Linked DNA regions of Homo sapiens: regions 1 and 3 are each linked to region 2. Evidence: fine-mapped expression QTL. A gene starts in region 2. Each other region holds a variant in brackets. All regions are shown on one strand. Distances are from middle to middle.

Region 1 (9,220 bases), 59 kb before region 2:
AAGTGAAACAGGAGTGTGACCACTGAAGCACAGCATCACAGGGAGATGGTCAGGCCTCTGGATAACTGCGGGCGGGCCTGACATCACTCAGGCCCTCCACAGGAGGCGGTGGAGCAGAGTCTTCCCTAACTCCCCCGGGGAAAGGGAGACTCCCTTTCCTGGTCTCTAGGCACTGACGCAACCGCTAGACCAAGGTCCGCTAGGCAATGGGCATCTTCCCAGACGCTGGCGTTACCCCAAGACCAAGGGGCCCTCTAGTGGCCCTATTCGGGCATGACAGAGGGCTCACACTTGTCTTCTGGTCACTCTTGACCTCAAGTGATCTGACTGCCTCGGCCTCCCAAAGTGCTGGGATTACAGGCATGAGCCACTGCTCCTGGCAATAATGTTTCGTTTTGTTTTTGTTTTAAAAAAAAGAAATTGTCTTTGAGATAGTTTTCAGAGTGAGCATTTTGGCAGACCAAGAGCTACCACCTGGTCCTGAGACCCGCTCCCAGGAACTGACTCAGCTATACAAAGATAGTTTTGGACACACCTGTGATTTCATCCATAGCCGATCAATTGTTCCCTCAGCCCCTTGCCCACCAAAGTTTCCTTAAAAAACCCTAGTCTCAGGTCGGACGCGGTGGCTCGTGCCTGTAATCCCAGCACTTTGGGAGGCCAAGGCGGGTGGATCACCTGAGGTCGGGAGTTCAAGCCCAGCCTGGCCAACATGGAGAAACCCCATCTCTACTAAAAATACAAAAATTAGCCGGGCATGGTGGTGCATGCCTGTAATCCCAGATACTCAGGAGGCTGAGGCAGGAGAATCGCTTGAACCCGGGAGGCGGAGGATGCAGTGAGCCGAGATCATGCCAATGCACTCCAGCCTGGTCAACAAGAGGGAAACTTCATCTAAAGAGAGAGAGACAGACAGAGACAGAGACAGAGGCAGAGAAAGAGAAAGAGCGAGGAAAAACCCTAGCCTCCAAATTTTCAGAGAGACGCGCTTGAAATATTTCTCCCATTCTCCTCGCTTGGCCGCCCCTGAGATTATTAAACTCTCTCTCTTTGCTGCAACACCTGCTGTTCGCATTGGTTTTGTCTGGGCAGTGGACAAGGAGAACCCATGAGCCCGTGACAGTCCCAGCCCTCCCCCACTGTCTTTGCTAAGCCCAACAGTGGGCACAGGACTAAGAAGAGCCATTTCTTTGGCAGGAGGACTGAGAATTTTCTGACCGCAGTGCACCATGGGAAGGTAAGTCCTCTTAGAGCTGACCACTATGGGGAAGCAGAGCATTTGTGTAATGGAATGCATAGTGAGTGTCAAGAGGTGAGGGCTGTGACAGTTCCTCTCGCTTGGTGGAGATAGATGGAAAGAGCTGAAGGTTGGGCATGGTGGCCCATGCCTGTAACCCCAGCACTTTTGGTGGCCGAGGCAAGAAGATCTCTTGAGCCCCAGAGTTCGAGACTAGCCTGGGCAACATGGTGAAACCCTATCTCTACAATAAAAGAAAATATTTTTAAAAATTAGCCAAGCATAGTGGTACACACCTGTAGTCCAAGCTACTTAGGAGGCTGAGACATGAGGATCACTTGAGTCCCGGTGTTCAAGGCTGCAGTAAGCTATGATTGCACCACCGCACTGGTGGTGGGCAACAGAGCAAGACCCTGTCTTATTGTTGAACCGGGGAGGTGGAGGTTGCAGTGAACTGAGATTGCGCCACTGCACTCCAGCCTGGGCAACAGAGCGAGACTCTGTCTCAAAAAAGAGAGAGAGAAAGAGAAAGAAAGAAAGAAAGAAAGAAAGAAAGAAAGAAAGAAAGAAAGAAGGGAGGGAGGGAGGGAGGGAGGGAGGGAGGGAGGGAGGGAGGGAGGGAGGGAGGGAGGGAAAGAAGGAGGGAAGGAAGGAAGGAGGAAGGAAGGAAGGATGGAAGGAAGGGAGGGAGGGAGGGAGGGGAGGGAAGGGGAGGGAGGGAGGGAGGGAGGGAGGTATGTCACCATGTTGGCCAGGCTGGTCTTGAACTCCTGGGCTCAAGTGATCCACCCACCTCACCCTCCCAAAGTGCTGGGATTACAGGTGTGAGCCACCGCGTCTGGCCCCAAAATTAACCATTTTGAAAAGTGAATAATTGACTGGCATTCAATGCATTCACAGTGTTGTACAACCATCACCTCTATCTAGTTTCAGAATATTTTCCTCACCCCAAAAGGAAACCATGTACCCGTGGGCTGGTGGCTACCTGCTTGGACAGCCCAGTTCTAGGTCAAATTCTGTGTTTTATCCCTTTTCCCTGTGAATTTTCTGGACTTCTTTGTGTTTTCTCCTGGGAAGCTCTGAAGTTTCCATAATTCCTGGGCTCCAGAAAGAAGAAAAGGCGGCCGTGGAGAGACGAAGACTTCATGTGCTGAAAGCTCTGAAGAAGCTAAGGATTGAGGCTGATGAGGTAAGTGAGGGGAGGAGGGTGGCCCCAGAGATCCCAGAATCGCCCCCTCTGTGCCCAGTGTCCAGGGCCCAACTCAGCCAGGGAGAGCTGGACCGAAGGATATGAACTTCTATGGGATAGAAATAGAAGGATATGAACTTCTATGGGACAGGCATTGCCCCTGCCTAAGGGAGATCCTAGGTCTCCTCCTTCTCCTCCTCCTCCTTTCTTTTTCTTTTCTTTTCTTTCTTTTTTTTTTTTTTTTTTTTTTGAGACAACGTCTCGCTCTGTCACCCAGGCTGGAATGCAGTGGCATGATCTTGGCTCACTGCAACCTCCACCTCCCAGGTTCAAGCTATTCCCCTGCATCAGCCTGCTGAGCAGCTGGGATTACAGGTGTGTGCCACCACACCCAGCTAATTTTTGTATTTTTAGTAGAGATGGGGTTTTACCACATTGACCAGGTTGGTCTTGAACTCCTGACCTCAAGTGATCCACCTGCCTCGGCCTCCCAATGTGCTGGGATTACAGGCGTGAGCCACGGTGCCCGGCCCCAGGTACCCTTCTTCTTGTTCCCACCTCCATCCTCAGGCTCTAAACCTCTGATCGATTTTCTCCCCAATGCCTAGGCCCCAGTTGTTGCTGTGCTGGGCTCAGGCGGAGGACTGCGGGCTCACATTGCCTGCCTTGGGGTCCTGAGTGAGATGAAAGAACAGGGCCTGTTGGATGCCGTCACGTACCTCGCAGGGGTCTCTGGATCCACTTGGTAAGCATCACTCATGTTTCAGATTGCTTTCTGACACATAAATGGGATTATTTTTTTCCTCCTGACACCAAATGTGTGTGGTTTTTTCCAACGCTGCTTCTCGAGCTCTCTGGTACTAGCTGGGTGTCCTACAATTCTGAGCAATTCTGACGCTGGCTACCTGGAGTTCACATCAGATTCCACAGGTGAAAGGGGCTCAGTCCCAAAAAACTGCTCCCACTTCAGACACGAGTTGCAATTACCTAGCCGCTGGTGCTTCTGACCGACTGGCAATAGTTTGGGGTTTCCCACAGCTTCCGCCTCATGTTCAATAATTTACTGGAATAGCTCACAGAACTCAGGAACACACTTTACTTACAATTGCTGGTGTATTACAAAAGATGGGCCAGGTGTGGTGGCTCACGCCTGTAATCCCAGAACTTTGGGAGGCTGAGGCAGGAAGATCGCTTGAGTCTAGGAGTTTGAGACCCAGGCGGGGCAACATAGCAAGACCCCATCTCTACAAAAAGTGAAAAAATTAGCCAGGCGTGGTGGTGCATGCCTATGGTCCCAGCTACTCAGGAAGTTGAGGCAGGAGGATTGCTTTAGCCTGGGAGGCTGAGGCTGCATTGAGCTACAATCACACCACTGCACACCAGCCTGGGTGACAGAGAGACCCTGTCTCAAAAAAAAAATTTTTTTTTTCTAAAAAAGAAAATTCCAAGGGTTTTAGGAACTCTGCACCAGGAAGCAGGGGAAAACACCAAGTATCTTTCTTTGCTACACAAAGCCATGGACAAAGCATAATAATACTACCTTCTGACATTAAAGGAGGATTTACATGTTCAGGTGCACTTTTCACACTGCAGGTGGATAGAATACAGCCCTTTTAACTTATCAGCCTCTATGATAAAGTATTGCATTAATCCGTGTAGGACTGTCTCATTCAGGAGGCCCCAGATGGCAGGTATGAAACACTCATGTCTGCATGTTTGTTGCCAAGCCCAGGGCAGACATGACTAATCGATCTTGGCACATTTTCAGAGCAGGAGGTAAGGCTAGGCAGAGCAGCAGAGGCTCGAGTGTGAGATAGGCAGGGCAGAGGCATGAATGTTGAGCCTGGCTGGCCTGATTTGTTTTCATTTCTGTGCTCAAAGTTTGATCTGGAGCTGGGTTCTGAGCTGGATGTGGAGGATGAGGTTCCTGGAGGCGACAGCATGAAGAGCAGAGCTGCAGAGCTTGGGAGTGGGAAAGGTCCTGCAGAGTCACACCGGACCCCTCTATTCCTCCAAGGCTCATCTAACATGTTGAGTGACATGGCGTGGGGGTTTAGCTGTACTGCACATTGCAGAACTCCAGGGGGCGCTATTGAGATAGGAACCCCATGATTTCTTCTGGAATCTTTCCGAGACTGCTGTGGTTAAAAAGGCAGGCCTGGCTGGACACAGGGACTCACACCTGTAATCCCAGTACTTTGGGAGGTCGAGGTGGGAGGATCTCTTGAGCCCAGGAGTTCAAGACCAGCCTGGGCAACATAGCAAGACCCCATCTCTACAAACAACAACAACGAAAGCCTTATATTTCAACAGCTTTGGGTTAGTTCCTGGAGCTGTCCTTTGTGGGCTGTTACGAGCCCAGACATACTTCTTTGTGCCTTGGTTTCCTCCGCTGTTGAGCATTGTAAGTGTGGACGATGAAGACTGGGAAAGGATGTGTGTGAGGAGGTCCTTCACAGGAACGCCTGCCTCATGGAGAGGGCGACACACAGAGGAAATGGAAAATTTACATGAAATAAATATAACTGCAGAACGGTCAAGTTCAAAGGAGCACTCAAAATCATCTGGGACAGTCCTTCCATTTCACAGGCAGGAAAATGAGAGCACGATGGGAGAAAGGCCTCATCAGAGTCAAATGTTTTTTGCAGCCAGCATTTATTAAAGGTTTACATGTGACAGCAACAAACTGTGCTGATCTCACAGGGCTGTTTGAGAATTAAATGATGAAACACATGCAAATCGTCCCAACCTGAGCTATCAAGTAGAGCTATGTAACATGAGCCACATCTATTCTATCATTTTAAATTTTCTTTCTTTCTTTTCTTTTCTTTTTTTCTTCTGGAGACACAGTCTTGCTCTTGTCGCCCAGGCTGGAGTGCAGTGGCGCGATCTTGGCTCATTGCAACCTCTACTTCCCAGGTTCAAGTGATTCTCCTGCCTCAGCCTCCCAGTTAGCTGGGATTACAGACGCGTGCCACCATGCCCAGCTAATTTTTGTATTTTTAGTAGAGACGGAGTTTCCCCGTGTTGGCCAGGCTGGTCTCAAACTTCTGACCTCAGGTGATCTGCCTGCCCTGGCTTCCCAAAGTGCTGGAATTACAGGTGTAAGCCACCATGTCCGGCCCATTTTAAATTTTCTAGTAGCCTCTTCAAGAAGGTAAAAAGAAACAGTGAAATGATCCATTTTCTTTAACCCAATATATCCAAAACATTAGCATTTTGACACATCGTTAAGAAAAAAATTGTTAATGAGATATTTGACATTCCTTTTGTCAGACTAGGTCTTTGAAAGCTGCTGGGCGTTTTATACTGAGCGCATTCCAAGTTGGATGCAGAAGTCTCATTAGATGTTAAAGGAGGCCCGGGGCAGTGGCTCACACCTGTAATCCCAGCACTTCAAGAGGCCGAGGCAGGTGGATCACCTGAGGTCAGGAGTTTGAGACCAGCCTGGCCAACACGGTGAAACCCTGTCTCTACTAAAAATACAAAAATTAGCTGGGTGTGGTGGCACGCACCTGTAATCCCAGCTACTTGGGAGGCTGAGGAAGGAGAATCACTTGAATCCGGGAGGCAGAGGTTGCAGTGAGCCGAGCTCGAACCACTGTACTTCAGCCTGGGTGACAAGAGTGAAACTCCATCTCAAAAAAAAAAAAAAAAAGATATTAAAGGAAAGAACTTTTCATACCCAGCTTGTTCCAAACATACTTCAGAGTTTCCCAATAACTGAATGGAGTACCAGTGTTTAAATTTAAGCTAATTAAAATGAAATAAATATTTTAAATCATGCTAGCCACACTTCAGGGGCTCAAGAGCTATGATGTATGTTTAATACATTGGATGGTGTGAGGGTAGATAGCACCCGATAAGCAGCATTAAGAACATCAAAAATTTTTATTGAGCCCGGGCACGGTGGCTCACACCTATAATCCCAGCATTTTGGGAAGCTGAGGTGGGAGGATTGCTTCAGGCCACAAGTTTGAGACCAGCGTGGGCAACATAGTGAGACTCCATCTCTACAGAAAATAAATTTAAAAATGAGCAGGGCATGGTGATGCACCTGGTGGGTAGTGGTCCCAGCTACTTGGGAGGCTGAGGTGGGAGGATCATTTGAGCCTGGGGGTTTGAGACTGCAGTGAGCCAAGATCATGCCACTGCACTCTAGTCTGGGCAACAGAGCAAGACCTGTCTCAAAAAAAAAAAAAAAAATATATATATATATATATATATAGACTCTATGTGACACACCAGCTCCCTTGCCTTCTGCCATGAGTAGAAGCTTTTTGCACCATGCTTCTTGTACAGCCTGCAGAACTGTGAGCTAAATAAACCTCTTTTCTTTATAAATTAATATATATAATATATATTTATTGAGTGAACAAATGAATATAAAGTCTTTTTTTTCTTTTTTTTTTTCTTTTTGAGATAGAGTCTTGCTCTGTTGCCCAGGCTGGAGTGCAGTGGCGCGATCTCGGCTCACTGCAAGCTCAGCCTCCCGGGTTCACGCCATTCTCCTGCCTCAGCCTCTCGAGTAGCTAGGACTATAGTAGCTGGGTCTGCAACCACACCCAGCTAATTTTTTGTATTTTTAGTAGAGACGGGGTTTCACCATGTTAGCCAGGATGGTCTCGATCTCCTGACCTCGTGATCCGCACACCTTGGCCTCCCAAAGTGCTAGGATCACAGGCGTAAGCCACCACGCCCAGCTTTTTTTTTTTTTTTTTTTTTTTTTAGATGGAGTCACGCTCTGTCGCCCAGGCTGGAGTGCAGTGGCACAATCTCAGCTCACTGCAACCTCCACCTCCCGGGTTCAAGCGATTCCTCTGCTTCAGCCTCC[T/C]GAGCAGCTGGGACCACAGGCGTGTGCCACCATGCCTGGCTAATTTTTGTGTTTTTAGTAGAGACAGGGTTTCCTGAGTATCCGGCACTAGAGGTACCCACCACCACGCATGCCACCACGCCTGGCTAATTTTTCTGTATTTTTAGTGGAGACGGGGTTTCACCATGTTGGCCAGGCTGGTCTCGAACTCCTGACCTCAGGCAATCCTCCCGCCTCGTCCTCCCAAAGTGCTGGGATTACATGCATGAACCACCACACCTGGCCCCGTTCATTGATTTTCTAGGATTATGTGAGTTAATAGGTATAAAAGACTAAAGACAGTTTGTTGCTGTCACATATAAACCTTTTAATAAGTGCTGGCTGCAAAAAACATTTGACTCTGATGAGGCCTTTCTCCCATCGTGCTCTCATTTTCCTGCCTGTGAAATGGAAGGATTGTCCCAGATGATTTTGAGTCCTCCTTCGAACTTGATCGTTCTGCAGTTGTATTTATTTAATGGAAATTTTCCGTTTCCTCTGTGTGTCGCCCTCTCCATGAGGCAGGTGTTCCTGTGAAGGACCTCCTTGCACACATCTTTCCCCAGTCTTCATCGTCCACACTTAAAATGCCCAACTCACTCTCTTCCTCTGTCCTCCAGGGCAATATCTTCTCTCTACACCAATGATGGTGACATGGAAGCTCTCGAGGCTGACCTGAAACATCGATTTACCCGACAGGAGTGGGACTTGGCTAAGAGCCTACAGAAAACCATCCAAGCAGCGAGGTCTGAGAATTACTCTCTGACCGACTTCTGGGCCTACATGGTTATCTCTAAGCAAACCAGAGAAGTAAGTCATTCCCAGCTGGGGACCTGGGGTGGGGGTAGGAGCAAGGGGTCTCAGGGTGTGGGGTTACCAAAGATGCTGACCAGCACCACCTTTTAAGTCCTTCAGGATTTTCAAGTCATCAAAATCTGGGCACTTCGGTTGATGCCTCAAAACTAAAGTATATCAGGATTACTGTGGTTGCAAGTGACAGAAATTGACTCTGATTCGTTTATGCAACAAATAAAGTGATATGATTTACTAGAAAGATACACAGACATCCAGGGCAAGAAGAACAATGAGGACTTATGATGGAATAAGGCAGAAATAGGGAAAGTGTCAGACCCAAGACAACTTTCCTCTCCATCTCTGCTTGGCCATTTGATGTCTTGAATTCACTATTTTATTTTATTTCATTTTATTTTTGAGACAGGGTCTTGCTCTGTCACCCAGGCTGGAGTGCAGTGGCGAGATCATGGCTCACTGCAGCTTCGACCTCCTGGGCTCAAGCAATCCTCTTGCCTCAGCCTTTTGAGTAAGCTGGGGCAACAGGCATGCACCATCGTGCCTGGCTAATTTTTAATTATTTTTTTTTTTGTAGAGACAGGGATCTTGCTATATTGCCCAGGCTGGTCTCAAACTCCTGAGCTCAAGCAATCCTCCAACTACTGGGTTCAAGTGATCCTCCTATCTCAGCCTCCCGAAGTGCTGGGATTACGTGTATGAGCCACTGCATCCAGCCTATCCTAACACATCGGGTTTTTGTTGTTTTTTGTTTGTTTTGTTTATTCTTGAGACAGGGTTTCACTCTGTCGTCCAGGCTGGAGTGCAGTGGTGCAATCACAGCTCACTGCAGCCTTGACCTCCTGGGCTCAAGCAATCCTCTCAGCTCAGCCTCCCAAGTAGCTGGGACTACAGGCACGCACCACTGGGCCTGACAAATTTTTTTTTTTTTTTTTTTTTTTTTTTTTTTTTTTTTTTAGAGATAGGGTTTCGCTTTTTTGCTCGGGGTGGTCTCCAAATCCTGGGCTCAAGTGATCCTTCCACCTCAGCCTCCCAAAGTGCTGGGATTATGGGTATGAGCCACAGCACCTAGCCTATCCAAGCACTTTGGGTGGCTGAGGCGGGAGGATTGCTTGAAGCCATGAGTTCGAGA
Region 2 (11,184 bases):
CAGAAGGTGGAGGTTGCAGTGAGCCCAGATCATGCCACTGCACTCCAGCCTGCTGACAGAGGGAGATTCCGTCTCAAAGAAAAAAGTACCACAGATCAGGTGGCTTAAACAACCGACACTTATTGTCTCACAGTTCTGGAGGCTGGAAGTCCAAGATCAAGGTGTGAACAGGGGTGGTTTCTCCTGAGACCTCTCTCCTTGGCTTGCAGATGGTGCCTCCCTGTGTCTACACATGATTTTCCTCTGTGCCTGTCCACTCCCCACCTTCTCACCTGTAGAACTCAGGGCTTATTTATGCTTATTTGTTGACTCTCTCTCCTCATAATAAGGTGTGCAGCAGTGTGGGGTCAGGAACCACATCACTTTGCTCACCATGGTGTTCATTCTTTCATTCATTGATTCCACAAACATTTCCTGGATGCCTGCTAGATCCAGTCCGCCCAGGTCCTGCAGCCGTGGCTGCATACAGGTCAGATGAGGCTCTTGCTCTTGTAGAATGTACCTCCTCCCGGGGGGCAACATGACATAAACAGGTAAACAAAGAAGTCAACAGGATGGCCATGGAGAGTAAGTGCCATGGAGACGACCGAACGTGCGGTGTGCTGAGGAGTAAAGTGAAAGCTTTTTAGGAAAGGGTCTGGGGGTCTGGGAAGGCATCCTGAGGGAGAGACCTTTCACCTGGGGCTGAATACTGAGAAGGGGTGGCCATGAGGAAGTCTTGGGGAACAGAATTCTGTGCAAAGGAAAAGTAAATGCAAAGTGTCTGGAGTGGGAAAGACCTTGATCTGTGTCTTACCTATGTCTATAACATTCTGTACTAATATAAAGGCATATCTGAGGCTCGGTAATTTATAAAGGAAAGAGGTTTATTTGGCTCATGGTTCTGTAGGCTGTGCAAGAAGCATGGCGCCTGTATCTACTTCTGGTGAAGGCTTCAGAGAGCATCCAATCCTGGTGGAAGGGGAAGGGGGGCTGGCGTGTTACATGGTGAGAGAGAGCAAGAGAGAGAGAAGGGAGGAAAGCACCAGTTTCCTTTTAACAACCAGATCTCAAGTGAACTAATAGAGCAAGAACTCACTCATTACCGCAGGGAAGGCACCAACCCATTCATGAAGGATCCACTCCCATGATCCAAACATCTCCCTCTGGGCCCCACCTCCAACACTGGGGATCACATTTCAACATGAGATTTGGAGGGGACGAATTTCCAAACTATATCAGTCTATTCGAGGAACAGAAGGAAAGCTGTTATTGCTGGATCAGGGTAGGGGAAGCACGGAATGAAATGTGATTGGAGAGATGGACAGAGATCAGATCTTGTGAATTCTGGCAGGTATCATGACATTCGATGTAGGCCAAAGAGTTACCTCCTAGCCCAGCTCCTGATACATGCTTAATAAGCGTAGTGTTGGATAAATAAACGTTTACGTGGTAAAAGTAGATCACAAGAGCTCCACAGGAGGAGGTGGTGGAGCTCCAGGTCTTCTCAATGAATGAAAGAATGGATGAATGTCTTTCTCCTAAGTCATGTATGACCTGTAGAGGCTTCCAGGTCTTCTAATCTTATCCAGTGTGCAACACTGCCTACAAAGCACAGTGGTAACTTCTAACTTTCCTTTCTCCCCAGGCTCTACTACCCGAAGGATAGTGCCCGAAGTTGCTGCTTGGCATAGATGAGCCTCAGCTTCCAGGGCACTGTGGGCCTGTTGGTCTACTAGGGCCCTGATGTCCACCTGGCCTTCCTGTTCTTCACTCCCTTCAGCCACACGCTTCATGGCCTTGAGTTCACCTTGGCTGTCCTAACAGGGCCAATCACCAGTGACCAGCTAGACTGTGATTTTGATAGCGTCATTCAGAAGAAGGCGTCCAAGGAGCTGAAGGTGGTGAAATTTGTCCTGCAGGTCCCTCGGGAGATCCTGGAGCTGGAGCATGAGTGTCTGACAATCAGAAGCATCATGTCCAATGTCCAGATGGCCAGAATGAATGTGATAGTTCAGACCAATGCCTTCCACTGCTCCTTTATGACTGCACTTCTAGCCAGTAGCTCTGCACAAGTTAGCTCTGTAGAAGTAAGAACTTGGGCTTAAATCATGGGCTATCTCTCCACAGCCAAGTGGAGCTCTGAGAATACAACAAGTGCTCAATAAATGCTTGCTGATTGACTGATGGATTAGCTGTGTGTGTGTGTCTTGGTCTGCCACCACCCCTGCTGCGGCCCTTTTCACCCTCTGTGTACCCTTTACTTGTTCCTTTCTTCCCTTCCCCCTTTCCTTTCCATCTTCTTCCATCTATATCTCAGCAATTAAGCATGGTGGTTCCACAGCTGGGTTTGGATCTTACTTCTGTTATCTGCTTACCATGAGAACATGGGCAAGAGCCTTCGCCTCCATGCCCCAGTTCCATCGTCTGTAGAATAGACCATCACGGAGCCTGTATCCTAGAAAGGCTTAAATGAGTTCATGAGTCTCAAGACCTTAGAATAGTTAGTCTGGCACCGACGGAGTTCCAGAGCAATTATTATTCATACAGGCTTTCCAGAATTAAAGCAGGACTGTTATGGGATGAATTGTGTGTCCCACCCCCACCAAAAGATGTGGCCATTGTAACCCCCAGTGCCTGTGAATGTGACCTTGCATGGAAATAAGGTCTTTACCAATGTCATCAAGTGAAGATGAGGTCACTCGTGTGGACCCTAATCCACAATGACTAGTGTCCTTATGAAAAGGAGAGATTTCGCCGGGCGCAGTGGCTCACGCCTGTACTCCCAGCACTTTGGGAGGCCGAGGCAGGTGGATCACAAAGTCAAGAGATTGATACCATCCTGACCAACATGGTGAAACCTCATCTCTACTAAAAATACAAAAATTAGCTGGGCATGGTGGCACACACCTATAGTCCCAGCTACTCGGGAGGCTGAGGCAGGAGAACCGCTTGAACCCAGGAGGTGGAGCTTGCAGTGAGCCAAATCATGCCACTGCACTCCAGCCTGGTGACAGAGTGAAGACTCTGTCTCAAAAAAAAAAAAAAAAAAAAAAAAAAAAGGAAAGAAAAGGGGGGATTTAGGGGAGGGAGAGCATTATGACAAATACCTAATGCATGCAGGGCTTAATACCTAGGTGACGGGTTGATTGGTGCAGCAAACCAGCATGGCACATGTATACCTATGTAATAAACCTGCATGTTCAGCACATGTATCCCAGATTTGAAATAAAATTCTTTTAAAAAAGGGGGGGGGATTTAAAGACAGAGACAGGCATGTATACAGAGAGGAAACCATGTGAACATGGAAGCAGGGATTGGGGTGAGGCTCTACTGACCAAGGGCCGCCAAACTATTGCCAGCAAACCACCAGTCATCCGAAAGAAGACCTTGATAGCAGAAGGATCCTGTTCAGAATTCTGTGTTGCATTCAGTCGTAGCTTTTTTTTTTTTTTTTTTTTTTTTTTGGACAGAGTTTTGCTCTTGTTGCCCAGGCTGGAGTGCAATGGCACGATCTTGGGCTCACTGCAACCTCCGCCTCCTGGGTTTAAGCGATTCTGCTGCCTCAGCCTCCCGAGTAGCAGGGATTACAGGCATGTGCCACCATGCCGGGCTAATTTTTTTGTATTTTTAGTAGAGACGGGGTTTCTCCACGTTGGTTAGGCTGGTCTCGAACTCCTGACCTCAGGTGATCTGCCCACCTCAGCCTCCCAAATTGCTGGGATTACAGGTGTGAGCCATCGCGCCCAGCCTCGGCCATGTCTTCTTAGTCTCCTCCAATCTCGAACGGTTCCTCAATCTTTCCTTGATTTTCATGACCTTGACATTTTTGAAGCTTACAGGCCAGTTATTTTGTAAACCATCCCTCCATGTGGGTTCGTCTGACGTCTGATTATGATGAGATTCAGGAATCTTACAGAAGCGATGCTGTTCTCGTGACATCCTGTCAGGTGGTGTGAAATTCCAACTTGTCACATTACTGATGATGTCCACTTTCATTGACTAAGATGGTGTTTGCCACGTTTCTCCACTATAACGTAACTCCTTTGAAATTGGTATTTTGTAGGGAGGTATTTTGAGCTCTGTAAATATCAAACTTCTCACTTAGCTTTTTATTTATCTGAGTATGGACTCCTGGTTTCTTCTGTGGTCCTGTATAATTTGTTACTATCATTATTTATTTTGACTCTCAAACTGCCCAGTATGGCCAATGGAGCTTCTTCAAGCAGACTCCTGTGTTCTTTCCACATGTTCTCACAACACTTTGAGCAATTTCTTGCTTTAAGCATAGGACGTTTGTAGGCTCATCTTGTTCTTTTTTTGCTCTAGACATGGAATCAGCCAAATTTCCTAGGCACTCTGGTTCCATTTGGTGGAGAATGGTATATAGAAGTCAAGATTTGGATGCTAGTGGTGCTCATTCATATGGGCCATCATTGTTTCTATGTTCTCTTAGTGGAGAGAGCTAGAGAATATGTGTACAAATGTTCCTATACACACTGAAACTATGTGTTTATTTTTATCTCTCTATGTATAATTGAGATCCATGAGGACATACCAACGCCTCCAGTTATAGTCCAACACCACAGGGCTCATTCGACTTTCCTCCTTTCTGTCTTAGTAACTCCCTTTTCCAACAGTAGGAGACCTGGCCCCCATTCCCCTTACTCACTGTGTGTAGCCAATTTCCCTTTTCCTTTGCCATTTCACCCCTGTGGGGATGTCTTTCCCAGCCTAGTCTGGCTTCAACACCATACACCATGCTATTCCCATGAGTGGACATTTCTCTCTCTGCTTGGGTTATGACAACCCATGCCAGATCCCCTCTATGTGGCCTCCTTCCTAATTGCCTTACAGTGCAAACCTCCACCCCAGACAATGCCTGCATATAAATGCCCCCGCCCCACTCAGCTCATGTTCCAACACTGCACACCAAGCTGCCCATCTGTGGATTTATCCCCACCATCTCCAGCCCCAACACCCTGGGTCATGCTGCCCCTCTATGTGGACTTCTCCTCACCCCACTACCCCACTGGAATGCTGGCTCTCCACGCCAGATGGCCCCCAGCCCCCTCCTCCCCTAACCCTACCTAGTGTGGAGTCGCAAAACCCCTTTGGGCTTTGACACCACCATAACTTCACACCCTCCCTGACACCCCCACCTTGCTTTTTCCCTCTAAATCATTCAGGAAAGACAGAAGGAAAGAGATGAACAGAGGAAGAGCAAATGCCATGCTCTTAGTCACCGTGTACGCCCACTTCCTGAAGTCCATGCTTGCATCCTGCTCACTCTCACACATTCCCGACTCACCCAGGAAAACTCCCTGAGGCCAGGGGTGCTGAGCTCTCCATCTCACTGCCCAGAGGCCAGTGTTGGAGTGACCCTTCACATGCTTGTTGGAACATTGAATAAATGATGCCGTCTGCTCTAATCCTCCATTTTCTTTTCTTTTTTTTCTTTTTTTTTCTTTTTTTCGAGACAGGGTCTCACTATGTCAGCCAGGCTGGAGTACAATGGTGCAATCGTAGTTCACTGCAGCCTGGAGTGCAATGGTACAATCATAGCTCACTGCAGCCTTGAACTCCTGGGCTCAAGCAATCCTCCCATCTCTGCCTTTGGAGCAGCTGGGACTACAGGTGTGTGCCACCATGCACGGCTAATTTTTTTATTTTTTGTAAAGACAGCCTCTCCGTATGTTGCTCAGCTGGTCTCAAACTCCTGGGCTCAAGCAATCCTCCCACCTCAGCCTCCCAAAGCGCTGGGACTACAGACATGAGCACCACATCCAGCCTCTAATCCCCATTTATAAAATGCACTTTCCAATTCCACTCTGGGGATAAAGGCGTCACAGAACCTGACTCTGCATTTCCCCACCCATATCATTCAAGCCAGATGGGGAGGCAGGGACAGCTCTGGTCCCTCCCCAACCCGGGTAGAGATTTCCAGCCCAGCTGTCACAGCTCTAAGACACCGGGACCGAAGGAGAAGCCAAGAGAGGCAGGAAGAGGTGGCAAAGGAGTGCTGGAGAAGATAAGGAGGCTGAGCTCCGACAGGGAGCAGGGAGGAGGGGCCATCTTGAGACTGGTGCCCTGCGAGCTCCACCCCACCCCTCCATGCAGTTCCCCATGGGCCCCGCCTGCATCTTCTTGAGGAAAGGCATTGCTGAGAAACAGCGGGTGAGGTGGGGAGTGAGGGGGAAGGGCGGTGGGCGGGGCAAAGGGAGCAGGGGTGTGGGACAAAGAAGGGGACATGATGGTGCCACAGAACCAGGGGAACAGGTGGATAGAGCAGGAGCTGAGAAGGTATAAGAAATTCCAAGGACCCTGGTGGGGTCATGTAAGCCAGTGAGATAAATGGGTGGGGGTAAAATCAAAAGTCAGGAGCAAAGAGAAGGAGAGAAAAGGAAGAAAAATGAAAAGGGAAAGTGGGATGATGTCATTGTTGAGATTACCATCATTCTTTTCTATGGATGCTCATTGTGATAATGGTGGTGATGATGGTGGTGGTGGTGATGATAATGATGACGTTAATAACAATAGCTGCCACTTATTAAGTCATTGTTCTGTGCCCAGCCCTGTGCAAAGGGATTTGCACACCTGATGTTATTTACACCTCAGAACAACTCATGAGGTCAGTGACTTTCATTCCCATTTTACAGGTGAGGAAAGTGAAGCTCTGAGTCATGAAGTCATTTGCCTTAAGCTTACACAGTTAGTAAGTGGCAGGGTCGGCCAAGTATAGTGGCTCATGCCTGAATCGCAGCATCTTGGGAGGCAGAGGCGGGAGGATCACTTATGTCCAGGAGTTTGAGACCAGCCTGGGAAACACAAGACCCCATCTCTACTAAAAATACAAAAAAATAGCTCAGCATGGTGGCATGCATCTGCAGTCCCAGCTACTCAGGTGGCTGAGGCAGGAGGATCGCTTGAGCCCAGGAAGTGGAGGCTGCAGTGAGCCCTGATTATGCCACTGCACTCCAGCCTGGGCAACAAAGTGAGACTTTGTCTCGTTAAAAAAAAGTAAGTGGCAGGGTCGGGTTTGCTTGATTCCTGTGGGCATGCTTTTTAAAATTTTTTTATTTTTCCATATATACCAACTTGTCCAGATATGTGGGCATACTTTTCATTGTTAGGCTTTAAGATCACCAAAAAAAGAGAATAAAAAAGGCCAGGCAGTGGCTCACGCCTGTGATCCCAGCCCTTTGGGAGGCCAAAGCAGGTGGATCACGAGGTCAGGAGGTCAAGACCAGCCTGGCCAAGATGGTGAAACCCTGTCTCTATTAGAAATACAAAAATTAGCCGGGTGCAGTGGCAGGCGCCTGTAATCCCAGCTACTCGGGAGGCTGAGGCAGGAGAATCGCTTGAACCCGGGAGGCAGAGGTTGCAGTGAGCCGAGTTCGTGCCACTGCACTCCAGCTTGGGTGACAGAGCGAGACTGTGTCTCAAAAAAAAAAAAGAGAGAGAGAATGAAAAAAAGGGTGATAAGGGACCGCAAGGAGGGGATCAGATGAAAGAGAAGCTGAGGGAAAGGCTCCAGGGATAAAGGGAGATGGGAAGGCTAAAGAGACCAGAGGTCAGTAGAATTTCCTTGTTAACATGCCATGTATATGTAAGCCCAACCCTTCAGGTATGTGCAGGAGTAGGTGGGGCAGCAATAACTGGACATTCTCAGAGTGTTTAGGAACTGGTCATGCTGGCACTGACCCTCCTGCCTGAAAGCCATTGAATGCTGTTTCCATGCACAGAGATTCTAACCTTTGGCAGGAAGATTGGAGGCAGGTGAGAAAGGAGTGAATGGGGGCTAGTGTGAAGAATTCTGACTTGGGAGTCAGGAGCCCTGAATTCAAATCCCAATACTGTGTCTGACTTGCCCCATGACCTCCAGGGAGCAGGTGAATGCCTTCCTCCCTTGGGAGGGGATCTGCTGCTTGTGAGCTGTGTGACCTTGTGCAGGTTCCTTAACCTCTCTGTTCCTCAGCTTTCTCATGGGTAAGATGGAAACGAGATGTAGATCTGCATCACAGAGCAGTACTGAGGTTTAAATGAAATGATTGTGGAAACTGCCTGGCACAGAGTCACCACTCTGAATGAGTTAGCTGTGGTTGTGAAGTCTCACTTTTTTCATCTGGAGATTGGACTCCCCAGTGTTTAAGACCCCCTTTGACACAATGTGATGGGTGTTTGTCTCAGAAAGGGAGAAAAAGGGAGATTGGGATTCGTGGGTGGGAGAGAGACATCGAGAGGGGGGTGGGGAGCCAAGAACTGTGGAACAGGAGTCAGGAGATGGGAAAAGGAATGGGAGGGATGGAGGAGGAGAGAGAGAATGGAAAGAGAACCACGAGAGCGTGGGGAGGAGCTTGGGAGAACAAGGAGACCCTTTGGAGAATGGGTGACCCTCTCTCCAAATTCCCTCTCATCTGCATTCCTTTCCAGGAAAGACCACTGGGACAAGATGAGATTGAAGGTAACACCGTCTTCCCCAGTTGCTTCCACGTTGCCATCCACCCACCTGACCTGCCCTCAGTCCCTTTGTGCATTTCCGTATAAATTCCATTACATGGAATTTTTACAATCCCTCTCTCTTCCCACTCAACTGTAATTTTGTAGAACTCTTTCTCGTGGCAGTTGAAGGACTTCCCAAAGTATTTCGAAGGCATATCCATCCTCAAGTATCTCCAAGACTCAGGAGTGAAAACAAATGAGTTTCTCTCTTGGTGACTTTGAGGTTCCCCATAACTTCATCCAGGAATCTGAAGGACGCCAGTGCTCTCATTTAGTGGTCTCAGGAATGATGCCTCTTTTGCTAACACATTTCATACATCACTCCTTTTTGAATTTTTTTTTCTTTTTTGAGACAGAGTTTTGCTCTTGTTGCCAGGCTGGAGTGCAATGGCACGATCTCCTCTCACTGCTACCTCCGCCTCCCAGGTTCAAGCGATTCTTCTGCCTTGGCTGAGGCAGCCTCCCTAGTAGCTGGGATCAAAGGCATGAGCCACCATGCCCAGCTAATTTTTTTGTATTTAGTAGAGATGGGGTTCTGCCATGTTGGTCAGTCTGGCCTCAAACTCCTCACCTCAGGTGATCCACCCACCTCGACCTCCCAAAGTGCTGGGATTACAGCCATGAGCCACCACATCCGGCCTTGGTTTTTTTGTTTTGTTTTGTTTTGTTTCTAATGTACGCTCCTTTAAGGAGTCTCTAGTTGGAGCCTCATTGATAGCTTCAAGAGATGCCACTCTTCCCCACTGACTGCTTCAAGTTCCCCCAAAGTTCTCTCTTAACTTTCAGAGCTGCGGGAAGCATTTCTTGAGTTCGATAAGGACCGAGATGGGTTCATCTCTTGTAAGGATCTGGGGAATCTCATGAGGACGATGGGTTACATGCCCACGGAGATGGAACTGATTGAGCTCGGCCAGCAAATCCGCATGAACCGTGAGTCCAGGGAATGGGAGGGATGGCCGGGGTTAGGGAAGGGATCAGGGCAGAATTGGGAAGGATGTAGAGGTTAAGAGTAGAGTTGGGGGTGGAGAGGAGGATGAGAGGGACTAGAAGTCTGGAAGAAAACAGGTCAGATTCGACTCAGGAAGGCAGCATTTGAAGTGGTTAAAAGCTTTTAGAGATAGGTCTGGGTTCAAATCTCAGTTCTATTATTTACTAATTACAGTCATTTTGAAAAGTGAAGTTATCCGCTACTCTTCAGTTTCCATTTCCTCATCTATAGAGGAAGATGCCTCTCTCCTTACCTCATGGGACTGTGGAAAGGAAGAGAAGGAAGAGATAAAGATGCTGATGCAGTTAAAGTCTTAGCCTCCAGTAAATTCTTATTAAAGGTAGTTATTACTATCACCACTAAGATTCATCAGTGGAGCACGAGATTGGAGCTGTATTGGATGTTGGAAACAAACTTGGAGCTGGAGCTAATGTTGGTGAATACAGCTGCAAAAAGGATGGATGGATTTTTGGATGGAGATCATAACTGATTTTTAGATTTTAGCTAGAATAAAATTCCTATTGAGGCTGGGCGCAGTGTCTCACACCTGTAACCTGTAATTCCAGCACTCTGGGAGGCTGAGGTGGGCAGATCACCTGAGGTTAGGGGTTTGTGAACAGCATGGGCAACATGGTGACACCCCGTCTCTACTAAAAATACAAAAAATTAGCCAGGCGTGATGGCGTGCACCTGTAATCCCAGCTACTCGGGAGGCTAAGGTACGAGAATCGCTTGAACCCGGGAGGCAGAGGTTGCAGTGAGCCGAGATCGCACCATTGCACTCCAGCCTTGGCAACAGAGTGGGACTCTGTCTCAAAAAAAAAAAAAAAAAAAAAAAAAAAAGCTATTGGGTTTGCTTCTGGGCATGTAACGAACTAAACAAGGTTGAATTCAAGGTAATGATAGTATTCATATCTGAAAAAAAAATTGTATGCTCATTTAATTCATGCTCCTCTTTGTACAGGTCTACAGAGGAGGAGAAACATCTTAACCAACTGTCTGAAAGTCACACAGGCAGTTACTTCCACCATACCACACCCTATCCACTCCTGTTCAGGCTAGAGGGACATGAGTTTGGAGCTTGGAGTTAGCTGCTGGAGGGAGGAAGTCAAAGACGGCTCTTATAGGGCAGGGAGAAGGGAGCTGATCTAACTGACTCGAAGCACAAAGTGAGGTAATGGAAGGCCAGGGCTTGTGGGGTCTCGCTAATCCTGTGCCATCTTCCTCAGTGGGTGGCCGTGTAGACTTTGATGACTTTGTGGAGCTGATGACCCCCAAATTGCTTGCAGAAACAGCTGGGATGATCGGTGTCCAGGAGATGCGGGATGCCTTCAAGGAGGTGAGTTAACAGTGTCATGGTGCTGGTGATGGTAGAGGCAGACCCTCTGAGGTCTGCCTGTAATTAGCCAATGCCATGGACAGCACCCACCAACCAGGCCCCCACCTTTTTTTTTCCAGCCATGGTGGGATCAATAAATAGGGAAGAAAAATAACGTATTCCAAACACCTGCAATGGATCAATGCCTCTGTATACTTTATCTGATTTAATCCTCAAAAAAACAAACAAACAAAAACAAAAACACGCACACAAACACATTAGGAGTAAGCAAGCAGTCATGTATCCCAATTAAACAGATGAGAAAAGTGAGGCTCATGAAGATTATAAATCTTATCCAAGATCCTGCCATCTCTAGAATAAATGTTAGGACTTTTTT
Region 3 (10,068 bases), 74 kb before region 2:
AGTCCCTGGTACGTGAGCCCCTTTCCCGGCGCCGGCAGCTGCTCCGGGAGAACTTTGTGGAGACAGAGGGCGAGTTTGTCTTCGCCACCTCCCTGGACACCAAGGACATCGAGCAGATCGCCGAGTTCCTGGAGCAGTCAGTGAAAGGTGAGGGTGCTCACTTTTCTCTCCTGAGGTCTGCAGCTTGCGCTGACCCCGGCCTCCCAGCCTGTCCCCAGTCCTGGACCGTTTGACCAGAATCCTGCCTGCTCCGGCGCTTGTGAGCCAGGGCTTCCCAAGGACCACGCTTCTGTGTCTCCCTCAGACTCCTGCGAGGGGCTGATGGTGAAGACCCTGGATGTTGATGCCACCTACGAGATCGCCAAGAGATCGCACAACTGGCTCAAGGTGATTCTCGACCCCCAACTGGGCCTTCTCCACCCCGGGTCTGGAGGTCTGTCCCAGCTAGGCAGTGGATTTCGAGCCTCCACTGTGTACCCTGTCTGAGCTCAGGGCCCCTTTTCACAATCCCACCCCAGCCCCCTGCTGCAACTGAGTTCAGACCTTCTCCCTGCTGCGAGCCCTTGCTCACGAGTTCTGATGGAGAACAGCCCCAGCCCAAGCACCGCACATCCCACGAGGTGCAGCGTGATGAGGTGTCTCTCTCCTGAGCCTGCCGCCCGTGTCGGGCCAGGCTCTTGGGCAGGAATTAAGCCAGGACATGAATAAGAGAAAGTCAGGCAGGAGTGGGCGCCATGAAGAAAAGCAAGTCAGCTCCGGGCCAGCAAGGCGGGGCTGGGAGTGCCCCGGATGATCAGGAAGAGTCTTTCCCAAAGTGAGGGACAGAGCACTAGGGAGGAAAACCCCCGGTGCAGAGACCCTGAGGGAGGAGCAGCCTCTGCGTGTGCAGGGAGCAAGGGCAGGCGAGGCGGGAGGTGAGCTCAGAGTGGGGAGCAGGCCCCAGATGAGGCAGCACCTGGGGCCACTGTGAGATAAAACTGGATCTTCCTCTTGAAGGTTTCAGGAAGTCAGTGGGGGTTCCGTGCCGGGAGTCACAGGTTGTCATTGTGCGAAGCTCCTGGGGTTTCCCCTCGAGTGGAGGACGGGTGTGTTGAGGGCCAGCGAGCAGGAGCCTGTCATCAGTAAGAGTTGATGGATGTTTGAGTGGAGAGGGGCAGTGAGGGGTGGACAAGGGGACTGGAGCGGGAGGCATTGTGGCACTGAGCCGGCCAGGCCTGCTGACTAGCTCTTCCTGTGTACTTATGTCTGTCTGTGGCTGGTTTCCCTCCAGCACAGACCTTTCCTGTCTCAGGAAATAGCACTGTTGTGCCCCCAGGGCTGAGCTTCTGCCTGGCACATGGTTAGCACTTAGTGAACGTTTCTGAACGAATGGGAAAATGCTCTCCCTTTGGAGGAGTGGCCAGAGTGAGTTGGCCACGTCTCTGTCCTGAGGGAAAGACGGCGGCAAGGCTGACTCCTGAGGTCCCATCGATCCCGCCTGCGTTTCCCATTTGTTCTTATTTATTTATTTATTTATTTTAAGACGGAGTTTCACTCTCATTGCCCAGGCTGGAGTGCAATGGCACGATCTTGGCTCACTGCAACCTCCGCCTCCCGGGTTCAAGCGATTCCCCTGCCTCAGCCTCCCAAGTAGCTGGGATTACAGGCACACGCCACCACGCCCGGCTAATTTTGTATTTTTAATAGAGACGGGGTTTCTCCATGTTGGTCAGACTGGTCTCGAACTCCCGACCTCAGGTGATCCACCCGCCTCGGCCTCCCAAAATGCTGGGATTACAGGCATGAGCCACCGTGCCCGGCCCCATTTGTTCTTATTTAAACCTAGAAACCCTTCCCATGTCCAGTCTCTTCCCAGGGGCCATCCTTGGGGTTCCTTCTGGAAGTTCCCTTCAGACTTACTTCTAGTCCCTCCTCAGTCCACTGAGGAGCCCCTCCCCAGCAGTGAGGGCCCCGCCTTGGGCGCTCCCCCTTCTCATCTCTTGCCTCCCCTTCTCCCAGCTGAAGAAGGACTACCTTGATGGCGTGGGTGACACCCTGGACCTGGTGGTGATCGGCGCCTACCTGGGCCGGGGGAAGCGGGCCGGCCGGTACGGGGGCTTCCTGCTGGCCTCCTACGACGAGGACAGTGAGGAGCTGCAGGCCATATGCAAGGTCCTGGGGAACTGGGGCTGATGGCAGAAGCAGGAGGGAAGGAGATTAGACTCCCGGGGGTATTTCCTATTGCACAACCCAGACCGAGGGGTGCTCACATCCCCCTGTGAAGGATCCGTTCTCCCCAGTTTTTATTTACTTTTTCTGGTTCTATGAGCAACTCTTGCTTCATATAGAAAAACAGGCTGGGATAGAAAGATGTCAGGAATGTGTGTCAGTGAGAGATTGAGATTAGCTACAAATAGTGGTGGCTCACATAAGAAAAGAATTTTTTTGTTATGAAATGAGAAGTGTGGAGGGGGCAGTCTGATGCCATTAGGGATTCAGGTTCCTCCTCTCCCCACATTTTTTTTTGTCCCCACATTTTTTTTTTCTGCCATGTGCCTCTGGCCTCATCATCACAATGTGGCTGCAGGAGTTCCAGCCCTCATGGCCATGCCTGCTCCACGCACCAGGGAAGAGCAAAGGGGGTTGGACCCTGAGTCAGCCTCAGCCAGTGAACACCTTCTGCTCAAGTTCTGTTGCTCATCACTTTGCTCCATGGCTCACCCCTAGCTGCAAGGAATTCTGGGAAATGTAAAGTGATTTACTTTTTTTCAAGTTAAAGTTTTTCTTAAAGCTGTGCACATTTTGGACTAGATTTTCTTACGTATTTCCTATATTCCCCTCTCCAACAAATTTGGGTCTTTTGCCACAGAAACAGAACAAAATATCACCTAGAATCGTACCACCCAGAGACACGCAGTAGTGACATTTGAGGGAATGTTTTATTTACATTTTTGCAAAGTTGTGATCCTTCTCTATGAGTAATTTTCTTTTCTGCCTTTTTACCCTGGAAGTACTTTGTTTTCAGTGTTGTATATGCCCTTAAGCAATATGGCAACAGGACCTGAATGCCCGCACAAGAGTTTTCAAGTGCTGTGCCCCATAGCACATAGTGCTGTGTCCTGAACCAGCTCCCCGTGGCTGTGTGGGGAAGTTGTTGCCGGCTTTGTTCTGATGGGTAATGTGATTACTTAGTGTCCGTTAACCTAAACGATCAGTGACAGAAGTGACTTTTATAAATCACAAATGTTTTGGCCACCAATCTACATTGTCACCATTTTGCATTATTTAGAATAGATTTTTAAATGAGCTATTGTCAGGACAAAAGGCAAAAAGAATCCTTAAGACTCTCAATGCAAAAGGGGCTTTCCAGGTGACGTTTATATTGGTGATTATTGCCCACTTGCTGCGTATCTGCCAGCATCCAGCATTACTGCTAATTTTTAGCCTTTCCTATTTTGGTAGGTGAAAGAAGCTCTTGGCAGTGTTAACATTGGAGATGGGCTGGGCATGGCCACTCACGCCTGTAATCCCAGCACTTTGGGAGGCTGAGGTGGGAGGATCACTTGAGCCCAGGAGTTCGGGACCAGCCTGGGCAACATAGTGAGACCCCACCTCTACAAAAACTTTTTTAAAAAATTAGCCAGGCGTGGTGGTGCATGCCTGTGGTCCCAGCTACTTGGGAGGCTGAGGCAGGAGGATTGCTTGAGCCCAGGAGGTGGAGGTTGCAGTGAGCCAAGATTGCACCACTGCACTCCAGCCTGGATAACAGAGCTACACCCTGTCTCAAAAAAAAAAAAAAAAAAAAAAAAAAAGACTGGAAGTGAGGACAGCCAGTTACTGGGCAGTGAGGATGTGGGTGAGCATAAGGGAGTGACTTCCTGGGGCCAGGGAGACAGTGGAAGCAGCAAGAGTTTCTCCATAAAGCAGAAGACAGGGAGTGGTTCACGGCAGGCCTGCTGGGAGAACATTCCCACCCGGGAGTCTCTGGATGGATGCTCCGCACCCCCAGCTCCCTACTTCCCTGGTTTTCTGTGGATACTGCGTAGACCAGAG[T/C]GGGGTGGGGGCCATGAGTGTACACAGCTTTAGATGGCAGGAGCAAGTGCTGGGCCTGTGGCTGGCTGAGCCTCTGACCTCCCGCTTCCTCCCTGCAGCTTGGAACTGGCTTCAGTGATGAGGAGCTGGAGGAGCATCACCAGAGCCTCAAGGTGAGCCATGGCGGCTGCGCCTCAGCCTCCACCCCTCTCCCCCCTGCCCCTGACAGCACAGTCCTTCCATGCAGGGCTCTTGGCTTCCACCATCTTGGGGCTCCAGGTGTGGGCAGGAGGGCAGCAGGCAGTGGAGCTGGCTTTGGAGTCCAGCATCTCCAGGTTCATGTCTCAGCACTGCCGGCTACTAGCTGGTGACCCTGCTCAAGCAGCCTCACCTCCCCAAGCCCTGTGCCTCATTCACACCAGGGGTTAGCCAAAGGACACAGCAGGTGCCATAGCTGCTCCTTGTGAAGTGCCTGTGAGCCCTGATCAATGTGAATGAATGTTGTCATGGTCACAGGCATTTCAGGCATGAGTGTCTGTCCTACATATTGGATCTGTATTAGTTTATTTTCATACTCATACTGCTATGAAGAAATAACCCAAGACTTGCCGGGCGTGGTGGCGCATGCCTGTGGTCCCAGCTACTTGGGAGGCTGAGGCAGAAGAATTGCTTGAACCCAGGATGCAGAGGTTGCAGTGAGCTGAAATCATGCCATTGCACTCCAGCCTGGGAAACAGAGTGAGACTCTGTCTCAAAAAAAAAAAAAAAAAAAAAAGGATCATTTATAAAGAGAGGTTTCCTGGACTCACAGTTCCACACGGCTGGGGAGGCCTCACAGTCATGGCAGAAGGCGAAAGAGGAGCAAAGGCACATCTTACATGGCGCCAGGCAAGAGAGCGTGTGCAGGGGAACTGCCCTTTATAAAGCCGTCAGATCTCGTGAGACTTCCTCACTATCACGAGAACAGCACGGGAAAAACCTGCCCCCATCGTTCAGTTACCTCCCACCAGGTCCCTCCACGACACATGGGGATTTTGGGAGCTATGATTCAAGACAAGATGTGGGTGGGGACACACGGACCCTGACACCATCTCTGTCCCACTCTTTGGTTCTCTCTCTCCATTGCCCTCTCTCTCTACATCTCTGTCCCTGTCCCACTGTGTCTCTGTCTCCTTCCTCCAGGTCTCTGGCCCTTTCTCTGCCTCTTTTTGTCTTTAATGTCCTGCCTCAGCCCCCAGGGCCTTTCATTTCTTTCCATCTCCCATTCCTCCCAACTCCCACCTTTCTCAACTTTTTACTTCAAGGGGGTCTTGTTTCTTTTCCCTTCTTTCACTTTCTGTTTCTCTTTCTATTTCTGTTTACTTCAAGGGGGTGTCTTGTTTCTTTTCCCTTATTTCACTTCCTATTTCTGTTTACTTCAAGGGGGTGCCTGTTTTTTTCCCTTCCTCCCTCTCCCCAGCCCTCCAACACTTGGCCTTGACTTTGAGATTCCAGACCCTCTGTTCCTCTCTTCCTCTGCTCACTGCAGGCGCTGGTGCTGCCCAGCCCACGCCCTTACGTGCGGATAGATGGCGCTGTGATTCCCGACCACTGGCTGGACCCCAGCGCTGTGTGGGAGGTGAAGTGCGCTGACCTCTCCCTCTCTCCCATCTACCCTGCTGCGCGGGGCCTGGTGAGTGGCAGAGGACCTGGCCGTGGCCCTGTGTGGGATTCTGGGCGGGCACACAGAGAGCAGAGTAGGGAGGGGACCTTGGCTCACATCTGCTCTTCCAGGTAAGGATCAGGAAGATGAGCTTGCATTTTATTTGAGTGTCAGATAAAAAGATCAAAACATTTTTTCTTTAAAAATGGGCCGGGCATGGGGGCTCGTGCCTGTAATCCCAGCACTTTGGGAGACCGAGGCAGGCAGATCACTTGAGGTCAGGAGTTCAAGGCCAGCCTGGCCAACATGGTGAAACCCCATCTCTACCAAAAATACAAAAATTAGCCATGTGTGATGGCGGGTGCCTGTAGTCCCAGCTACCCAGGAGGCTGAGGCAGGAGAATCGCTTGAACCTGGGAGGCGGAGGTTGCAGTGAGCCGAGATCACACCACTGTACTCCATCCTGGGTGACAAAGCAAGACTCTGTCTCAAAAAAAGAAAAGAAAATTCTTTTCTTAAATAAAAGAATTCCCAGGGCAAGCACAGTGGCTCATGCCTGTAATCCCAGCACTTTGGGAGGCCGAGGCAGGCAGATCACTTGAGGTCAGGAGTTCAAGACCAGCCTGACCAACACGGTGAAACCCCACCTCTACCAAAAAATAGAAAAATTAGCTGGGTATGGTGACCCGTGCCTGTAGAGACGGGGTTTCACCATGTTGACTAGGCTGGTCACAAACACCTGGCCTCAATCCGCCCACCTCGGCCTCCCAAAGTGCTGGGATTACAGGTGTGGGCCACCATGCCCAGCCAAGAACTTACATTTTTGATCTAATTTTTAAAAATGTTTTACCATGCTGCACGTTAGACAGCCAGGGACCCTTAGTAACAAGGCACAGGAGCCGGTGTGTATCCAGCCCTTGCTGTGCAGTGGGCACTGTGTGGTCATCAGCGTGTCACTCATAGACACTCATTTAATCCTCTCAAAATCCGTAAGACGTAGTGACACAAACATCTCCATTTTACGGTGAGGATGTAGAGCCCTAGAGAGCCTGAGTAACTGCCCCTGCATCACGCGGCTCCTGAGAGTTGGGAGCTGGGATTGGAATCCCACAGTCAGATTCTAGAACCCATACCCTGGCGCCGTAGTTCAGCCTCTCAGCCCGAATTACCGTCATTATCGTAACGGCTGTAGCAGGTGGCATTTTTTTTTTTTTTTTTTTGAGTTGGAGTCTCGCTCTGTCACCCAGGCTGGAGTACAGTGGCGCAATCTCAGCTCACTGCAAGCTCCCCACCTCCCGGATTCACGCCATTCTCCTGCCTCAGCTTCCTGAGTAGCTGGGACTACAGGCGCCCGCCACCACACCTGGCTAATTTCTTTTTGTATTTTTAGTAGAGGCGGGGTTTCACCGTGTTAGCCAGGATAGTCTCCATCTCCTGACCTCGTGATCCACCCGCCTCGGCCTCCCAAAGTGCTGGGATTACAGGGGTGAGCCACCGCACCCGGCCAACAGGCAGCATTTCTTGAGCACTTACTGTGCCCGGGTACTGTTCCAAGCACTTTGTCAACTTGTTTAATCCTTATGACAACCCATCGTTCGGCCCCGTCATGTGGATCAGGAAACAGTCCAGAGTGGAGGAGGGAGGAGACTGAGCAGGGGGTCGCTGGGGCTGGACCGCAGGAGTCTCCATCCCGCTTCCGCAGGTGGATAGTGACAAGGGCATCTCCCTTCGCTTCCCTCGGTTTATTCGAGTCCGTGAAGACAAGCAGCCGGAGCAGGCCACCACCAGTGCTCAGGTGAGGTCCTGGGAAGCAGGGGTGGGCCGCCCAGCTGCTTGGCCCTACCAGCTTTTTAGCGTGGTGGCCTCTCTGGAACCTTGTGGAGGTGGGAGCAGCCAGGGAGCTTCTGACCACCCCGTCCCACCCTCTCTCCGCAGGTGGCCTGTTTGTACCGGAAGCAAAGTCAGATTCAGAACCAACAAGGCGAGGACTCAGGCTCTGACCCTGAAGATACCTACTAAGCCCTCGCCCTCCTAGGGCCTGGGTACAGGGCATGAGTTGGACGGACCCCAGGGTTATTATTGCCTTTGCTTTTTAGCAAATCTGCTGTGGCAGGCTGTGGATTTTGAGAGTCAGGGGAGGGGTGTGTGTGTGAGGGGGTGGCTTACTCCGGAGTCTGGGATTCATCCCGTCATTTCTTTCAATAAATAATTATTGGATAGCTACTTTGTGACAGGGTCTGTGCTGGGCTCTGGGGGCAAAGCTGTCATGGGTGTCACCTGCATAGCATGTAGCCATGTAGCCATGGCCTAGGAACTGCCAGAGCCAGTGCCAGCCATGGAACTGCCTGCAGTGGTGGGCGTCTTCTCTATCTGCTCTGTGCAGTGTGACCGCCACTGGCCACCTGCAATGCCCGAGCCCTTGACAGGTGGCCAGCATGACAGAGGATGCGAATTTGTTTTGTTTTGTTTTGTTTTGATTTTGTTTTGAGACAGAGTCTCGCTCTGTTGCCCAGGCTGGAGTGCGATGATGAGATCTCAGCTCACTGCAACCTCCACCTTCCGGGTTCAAGTGATTCTCTTGCCTCAGCCTCCCATGTAGCTGGGATTACAGGAATGTGACACCACGCCTGGCTAATTTTTGTATTTTTAGTAGAGATGGGGTTTCGCCATGTTGGCCAGGCTGATCTTGAACTCTTGGCCTCAAGCGATCCACCCTCCTCAGCCCCCCTAAGTGCTGGGATTACAGGCGTGAGCCACCACACCCAGCCATACCAAATATTTTATTTAATTGTATTGGACAGCAGTAGTCTAAAATCTTTACATACATATATTTTTTAACTTGTTTAACCTTCCAGCCATCCCACAGGGAGGCACCATCGTGAGCCCTGTTAAGGAAGACAAATGCAGTGTCTTAAAATAACACAGATGTATTCCCTAAACAGTTTCGGAGGTCAGAAGTTCAAAATCAGTTTTACTGGGCTAACATCAAAGTGGTGGCAGGGCCGGTTCCTTCTGGGAGCTCCAGGAGAGAAACTGTGTCCTTTTTCCAGCTTCCAGAGGCCACCTGGTTCCTAGGCTCATGGCTTCTTCCTCCGTCCTCAAAGCCAGCAGCATCGCACCTGCAAATCTCTCTCCTGAGGTCATCAGGTCACGTCCTCTCCTCCATCAGATCTCTGTTTCTCTCTTCCAAGTACTCAAGTGGTTACATTTAGGGCCCCCTGGATGATCCAGGATAATCTCATTTCAGGATCCTAACTCAATCCCAAAGTCCCTTTAGTCACATAAGATCACACATTCACAGAGGCCAGGCACAGTGGCTCACGCCTTGGGGAGGACTTGGGGAGGCTGAGGTGGGAGGATCACTTGAAGCCAGGAGTTCAAGACTAGCTTGTCCAACACAGCCAGACTTCATCTCCTCTAATTTTATTAATAAAATTAATAAAAATGTAAAAGGGCCAGGCGCGGTGGCTCACGCATGTAATCCCAGCACTTTGGGAGGCTGAGGCAGGTGGATCACCTGAGGTCAGGAGTTCGAGACCAGCCTGGCCAACATGGCAAAACCCCGTCTCTACTAAAAATACAAAAATTAGCTGGGCATGGTGGCGCGTGCCTGTAATCCCAGCTACTAGTGGGGTGAGGCAGGAGGATCACTTGAATCTGGGAGACAGGTTGCAGTGACCCGAGATCGTGCCACTGCATTCCAGCCTGGGCGACAGAGCGAGACTCCATCTCAAAAAAAAAAAAAAAATAGGTCACATCAAAGGTTTCAGCGATTAAGACCTGGATATCTATGGGGGCTGTTATTATTGCAGCCACCCCACATGGGATGATATGTTAGAGGAAAACCATCGGGAAATGGTCAGACAAGGCAAGCAGGATGCCTGGAACACCCACCCAGCCCTGGGCACCACGGGGCTGGCTTGGGGAAAACGGCTGCACGCGGAGCGGGGCCCAGGCTCGGGTCTTCCAGAGCAGGAGGCCTCTAACCCCGGGGCCCAGCGTGGAACAGGAGCTTCCGGGCATGAGAGTGTCAGGGTGTCCTGATACTCCCGCAGGGGGGACACAGGGCTCCCAGCTGTCCCCTGCCCCTCACACTCTGTTTCTGCCTCTCACATCTGCCCTCCCTCCTTCCCTTCTCTCTCATCAGGTTCCTCTGCCCTTGTCTCCCACCCGCCCTCTCTCCCCTTCCTTCTCTATCTGCGAGGCTTTGCTCTCTGCCGTGCAAGTCTGTGCCAGGCTTACTTTGCTGTCTGTCACTGTGACTCAGCCTCCCTGTCTCTCTTCCTGTGTCTCCATCATGGTCTCTTGTGCACACAATCTCTTGGGCATTCTGTTTCTATTTGTTGTAGCCCAAGAAGACAACATTGCCTTCCGAGTCTCCTTGGGGCTAGCAGTGGCCCTGTAGCCCTGTGTGG

Evidence for each region. PIP is the estimated chance that this variant, and not a neighbour inherited with it, causes the effect.
Region 1: its variant is fine-mapped to the expression of CABP5 in whole blood (INTERVAL, PIP 0.99).
Region 3: its variant is fine-mapped to the expression of CABP5 in whole blood (TOPMed, PIP above 0.99). The same link has a PIP of 0.9 or more in blood mononuclear cells.

What each region holds. Positions count from the first base shown.
Region 1 is chr19:48,098,539-48,107,758 of GRCh38, reverse strand. PLA2G4C (phospholipase A2 group IVC) reads left to right here. Exons shown (of 17, transcript NM_003706.3): 2 at 1,198-1,237; 3 at 2,315-2,426; 4 at 3,035-3,171; 5 at 7,899-8,088. The coding sequence starts at 1,230. Among named protein-coding and RNA genes, the nearest start is that of PLA2G4C, 7.7 kb to the left of the region's middle. The variant T/C (reference allele first, on the strand shown) is at 7,261.
Region 2 is chr19:48,038,832-48,050,015 of GRCh38, reverse strand. It overlaps CABP5 (calcium binding protein 5), which reads left to right and starts at 5,937. Exons shown (of 6, transcript NM_019855.5): 1 at 5,937-6,156; 2 at 8,413-8,443; 3 at 9,268-9,411; 4 at 10,699-10,808. The coding sequence starts at 6,094. It overlaps PLA2G4C (phospholipase A2 group IVC), which reads left to right. Exons shown (of 17, transcript NM_003706.3): 17 at 1,628-2,170. The coding sequence ends at 1,673.
Region 3 is chr19:48,113,253-48,123,320 of GRCh38, reverse strand. LIG1 (DNA ligase 1) reads left to right here. Exons shown (of 28, transcript NM_000234.3): 22 at 3-147; 23 at 305-387; 24 at 1,999-2,151; 25 at 4,131-4,184; 26 at 5,540-5,683; 27 at 7,356-7,448; 28 at 7,589-7,876. The coding sequence ends at 7,672. Among named protein-coding and RNA genes, the nearest start is that of PLA2G4C, 7.5 kb to the right of the region's middle. RefSeq lists a silencer at 1,165-1,354. The variant T/C (reference allele first, on the strand shown) is at 4,033.